2 separate regions of the Homo sapiens genome follow, and region 1 is linked to region 2. A link means that fine-mapping ties the variant in region 2 to the plasma level of a protein whose gene starts in the linked region. Region 2 holds a variant in brackets. A gene starts in the other region. All regions are shown on one strand. Distances are from middle to middle.

Region 1 (2,916 bases), 130 Mb before region 2:
TCAGAATCTAGAGAGGGAAGGATGTGAATAGTTAGCATTTACAAACTCATTCATGATATACCCTCCATTATCTGGCTCTTGTTGCTACTTGCATATCATCTAGTGTCTTTACCTTTCAACATCAAGAAGCCCTGGCCCCTGATCACTAAGCAGGCTGTAATCCAGTCATTCCAAACTACCTGTGGTTCCTTGAATAAGTAATGCTGTTTCACTTGTCTGCATATGCATAGCAAAATCTTTTCCTATTCTGATTCTCCACTTAACTCATCCTAAACCCCTGCTCAAGTATCATCATTGCTGTGAAGTCTTCTCTGATTAGCTCCAAACATAGTAACCATTTCCTCCAAGGTTTCATTTCTTTTTCTTATTTTAGAGATGTGATCTCACTCTGTCACTCAGGCTGAGGTTCAGTGGCCTGATCATAGTTCACTGCAGCCTCAAACTCCTGGGCTCAAGCTATCCTCCCAGTTCGGCCTCCCAAAGTGCTGGGATTACAGATATGAGCCACCTCGCCTGGCCTCCAAAGTTTGTTATACTTTTCTCTCTTAACAGTGGTTTCCACATGTTATTGCAATTACTAGACCATATATTTTTACAGTGCAAAACTATCCCTTGTTCCTTCATGTACTGCCTCCACCCATCACATTGCCTGGCATTCATGAGTGCTAAAAACTTTTCATTGAATACAATACTAAGTAAATGAAGAAATGTGGGATTAAAAATGAATGCCTACAATGAACCAAGCTTTCTGCTGAGTTACCTGAATATTACAAAGAAGCAAAAATTATTACTGTAGAGGAACAATTACCCTGCTTGGAATGCAGAGATTATGTCAGCATACAAAATTGATTGCTTGATCAATCTGGAGTAGAATAGCTCATGAAGCATAGCTATACTTAATAATATAGCAAAGCAGAGGGGCCTGAGAGGGTCTTACTGCTTAATCTCTGTCCATCATGTCTTAGACCTACAGACAACTTGAGTTCAATGATTATGATGCCCCTCACCTCAGGGATCTGTTTCCATCCAGCTTCCAAAGATGGGCATACACCAGCACAAGCATAGAAAAATAACAAATCTGTATATTGGACCCTCTGCTTAGCAGTGAGAAAGCAGGTTTGAAGACAATAAAGCCAGGCCTGTATGTGGAGATTGGCACCATGACCCTGGATTATGTTTTATGGGATATGCCTCCAAGGGCAACTCTGCATTTATCCCATGGCCTCTGGCTTCCAAATTTTCTAGGCACTTCCCTCTGGGGTAAAGGAATCAAAATTGGCTTATTTCCCTTGCAAACCATCCTTGGCGACTAAGTACTGCCTTGTCTTCTACTGAGAGATGGCCATATTTTTGGCACCTGCCTTTCCTTGTGGGAGGTGTTTCCTCTGTTTACATAGCAAAGGGGCTGTAGGAGAGACAGACGGAGCTGGACTTACAGCAGAACCAAGTCATGATAGCCTGTTTCTATTTTGTTTTCAGCATTTTTCCGCCAGTTCTGGCCACCTCCTTTCCTCTGGAACATGCTGATTTCAGCAAGTCCAGCTCTGTCAGCTCTGCCCCCCGAGTCTATTGGTTTCTGATCATCTGATAATGCTTTGCCTGCACTCAGGACCTGTCTTTGTCCCTCCTCTTAACATACTTGCAGCTAAAACTAAATATTGCTGCTTGGGGACCTCCTTCTAGCCTTAAATTTCAGCTCATCACCTTCACCTGCCTTGGTCATGGCTCTGCTATTCTCCTTGATCCTTGGTGAGTATCTCTGCACCTGTTGGTTTAGGCTTCAGAGTTTTCTGGCACTTTGATTAGGAGAACTTTCTCCCCGCCAACCTGGAACAGATTTAGATGTTTTTCAAGGATGAGCTTCTTCCTCCTTTTTACATTTGGTAACTATTCTAATCCTTAAAAAGCCGCTTAATCCATACACATTTGTAATTCACTTTAACAGATTTTTTTCTATTTTCTTATATTTGTAATGACAGAGTCATGATAGTTTATCCCATTTCTCTTTTTACATAAGTGTTCCTAAATGTACTATTAGTAAGAAGACAAATGAATGGGCACCGGGCAGCAGCAAGTAGAGCCAGGAAAGGAAGTAGAACTGCAAGACAATCACCTTTCATTGATCATATTGTCTGGTTTCCTCTGAAAAGTGTTTCATATAATGTTTTTCTAGTTTTCTTCAGTTTCTCATTGCTTAGAGTAATCTAGAGATTAACCTAGTTAATCTGGTGATTGTGGAGCCAAGGAGACCTGGATTTCAATCCTGCCGTTTTGATTTCTTAGCGGTGTGAATTCGTAGGTTACCATACCTCTCTGAAATTTTGCTCTCTCATCTATGAAGTGAGGATAATATTATGTTCCTCAGAGGTTTTTAGGAGTATTTTTTTTTATAAGATAACTAATATAAAGCATCTAACAATGCCTGGTAAATCCCTATGCTAATCAATCACATCCACTTTTATGTCTTGATGATCTAGTACATCACCAAAGCCCACACAATCCTCTCAACTGGACACTTTTGTGTTCAATGTAAGGTACTGACCACATCTTAAACATCCATGCATCCCCCACATCACTCAACGGCTAGTCCTGCCCCTCATGGATATACTACTGGGTCTTCCAGGCTCATGTGCACTTCCACCTGCTTCATGAAGCCTTTCTGGCCTGTGCCTTCTGCAGTTACCCACCCTACTGCAGAGCTTCCAAGTCACTTACTGGCTATATCACGTTTGCACCTGCATATCAGGCTTGCCATGCTCACTTTCCTTCACATGTACACATGTTGGGTTGGGGTTATGCAATGATTCCCATATGTATAATATAACCTTGAGTTTTGGATAGTTGCAGAAAAGGCCTCATTGAGCCTGAGAGTGGCCACATTCTGAAGATTAAGGGAATGAGGGTAATGAGAGGTTA
Region 2 (2,916 bases):
GAGCCAAGATCGCACCACCACACTCCAGCATGGGTGACAGAGTGAGACTCTGTCTCAAACAAAAAAAAAAAAAAAAAAAGAATGGGCCTTCTCTCCCATGGCAGATAGGCATTCTCCAGTCCCAGGAAAGATGCTCAAATGTTTACATCCTACCAGCTCTCATTTCAGGAGAGAGCCAAGCTTCGCCACTGGCTCCATCGAAAGTTCCAGGGAGGGCTCTGATTGGCTCAGCTTGTATCACATGCCCAGGCCCAAACCAATCACTGTATATCAAGGAAAATGGGACACTGTAATTGGCCTACTTGCCTTCCCAGTGGGTGGGGCCCTGTGAGGGATACCTGACCAGAGCACATGGACAGGAAATGAGAAGATTGGAAAAATATGCCGGGCAGACAAAAGAGGTTCCAGCCCTGCCTCAGTTTACAATGAGGCTTGAGGGCAGAACCCTGGGGAACACTAATATTCAAGGGTTGGCTGGAACTTGGGAAGGAGACTGAGGGGTATGAGAGAGGTTCTGGGAGAAGCAGCGTCTTCGAGGGAGGAGAGAAGTTCTACAAGGAGGTAATGGTCAAAGGCAAATTCTGGAAGGGGTCACTCACACTCACTGTTCTGGGCTCCAACCACCCACCCTCACCTGACATGGAAAGGCTCTGGGACCCGGTTTCACCAACACTGATTATGCCACCTCCCCCAGCAGAGTCTGTTTGCTTATCTGTGAAATGGGGGCAATGACAGAACACCCACCCCATAGGGTGACAGAGAAGGCTGAGTGAGAGACACTGAGAAATGCTTACCCCGGTGCAATGTAGCACCACTCAGGCACCATTCATTCATTTATTCATTTATTCATTCATTCATTCACTCACTCATTGAACAATCTTTAACTGAGTGCCTCCTTTGTATCAGTCCCTATGCCAAACACAGTGGATGTAAAGAAGACACAGGGATCTGAGGATGCGTGGGATACAGACCTGATGGTGGATGGTTATGATACAGGGTGATAAGTGCTGAAGGGACTGGGTTTTGCAAGCCCAGAGAAATTTGGTCCACATGGAGGCCCCAGGGCAGCCCCCTGAGGAGACAACATTTGAGATGACATTTCATGAGCACTCACCATGGGTCAGGCACTGGGTGTGCCAAGCGTTTCCACGTTGTTCCTGTGACGTCGGGGAGGGGATGGGGCCCAGAGAGGGTGGGAGGCTTACTCAGGGTCACCGTGCTCGTAAGTGGGGACACCAGGGCTGGCCCACCTCCACTGGATGAGTTTGCCAGATGGGGAGAGAGGAGAGACAGGATGTCAGGCAGAGGGCAAAAGACAATGTGACCCAATCCTCTAGGATGGGGAGAGGAAGCTGGGATTCCCATAGGGAAAGCCCATATCTGTAGAAGGGTGGGCCAGAGGCAGTAGGACAAGGGCAAGGTGAGAGCCATGACCTCCAGCAAGTCCTGTGCCTCCTGGAACCTCCGTCTCCTCCTCTATGAACTCAGGATAAGGACATCTATTATATTATCTTCATCTCCATTTTACAGGTGAGAAACAGATTAGATCAAGGCTATCCAGTTGCAGAGCCCACGAGCTGAGCCATGCACTGTGGTTCTGCTGGAGCAGATGAGATGTATG[A/G]GTTCCCTGCAAACCCTCCTGTTTGTCTCAAGAGTGGGAGCCATGAAAAGCACCCCAAGAGTAGGGGGGAGACTTCATGGGAGCAGCCCTCAGAGAGACCCAGAAGATGCTCCTGTGCTCCTACCCAGAAATTCAGTCTCTTAAGGACCTTAGAGACAGTTTCATTCATGCATTAGTGAGGAGCGATGCCTACAACTTGCAAATGGAGAAACTGAGTTCAGAAAGGAGGGAGTGACTTGTCCAAGGTCACACCACAAGCTGGTGGTAGAAATCCCTCCAGAATGCAGGCATCCCAACATCTGGTTTTGTCCATTTCTCCATTCCCCTGACTCCTCACAAATGACTTGTCCCCTTGTCCCCAGCATGGTGATCTCTACCGGTCCTGAGCATTTAATATGGGCCAGACTCTTCGCCTTACTCTGACTCTCCAAGCCACCCTATGAAGTGGTATCCAAAGGCAACTTACTTACTTAAATACATGGCTTATTGATAGTATGTTACAAAACACATAAAATAATAATTGATGTATCTGCATTTCATGACCACCCTATAAATTGCACAATTCCTATTTTACAGATGAGAAAATTAAGGCTCAGAGATGGGAAAAGACTGTCTCAGGGACACACAGCGAGCAAGCAACAGGGTGAGGATTAGTATCCAGGCATCTCTGACTCCAAAGCAGGGGTGTCTTGTCCACACCCCAAGCTGCTGTCAGGGAACAGATGGGAGAGCCTGCAAGGGGAGGTGAGAGGAAGGTGCTGAGCCCCAGTCATGAGCGAGGTGACAGTTATTGTAGTGGCTAAACAGGTGGCCCCTGAGATCAGGCTGCCTGGGCTGGAATCCTGGTCTACCACTCCTTAGCACTGTGCGTTCAGGCAAACCATTGGTCCGCTCTGAGCCTTGACTTCCTTATCTGTAAAATGGGCGTGGTAATAATATGCCACCCTCATTAGGTTCCTGGAAGGGTTAAATGAGTGTGTAGCCCATGGTACATGCAATGGAAGTGCTGCCTCTTATTTGTGTGGCATTCTGCAGTGACTGTCTCGTGTACTCTCAATAGTGCTTATAACTCTTACGGGTTCTGGAGCTAGCCACCTGGCCTCTGCTACCACTTCCTAGCAGGGCGGCAGAGCTTAGAGGGAGATTTAAGGTGAGGATGGTGAGGTTTAAGTCCTGGGTCCCTCATTGGCATGGCCTTGTACTTCATTATTTAAAGAGACCCCCCCGCCCTCAGTATTGTATAACCTTTACTGACATCCTGCCAAGCCTGGATCTGCCCCTGTGTGAGGAACTCT

Which allele goes with the higher level. Positions count from the first base shown, and alleles are read on the strand shown. Strength reflects both the effect of a copy and how common the allele is.
As copies of G replace A in region 2, the plasma level of the protein whose gene starts at base 1,615 in region 1 goes up (weak association).

What was found. PIP is the posterior inclusion probability: the model's chance that the variant is causal. Protein levels are from antibody-based Olink assays in UK Biobank. Linkage for the fine-mapping came from a reference panel and not from the study's own genotypes, which makes the PIPs less certain.
Region 1: CD5L starts here. The variant in region 2 is fine-mapped to the plasma level of the CD5L protein (UK Biobank, PIP 0.93).

Annotation. Positions count from the first base shown.
Region 1 is chr1:157,840,507-157,843,422 of GRCh38, reverse strand. It overlaps CD5L (CD5 molecule like), which reads left to right and starts at 1,615. Exons shown (of 6, transcript NM_005894.3): 1 at 1,615-1,749. The coding sequence starts at 1,722.
Region 2 is chr1:23,613,951-23,616,866 of GRCh38, reverse strand. No RefSeq gene overlaps it. Among named protein-coding and RNA genes, the nearest start is that of MDS2, 12 kb to the left of the region's middle. The variant A/G (reference allele first, on the strand shown) is at 1,622.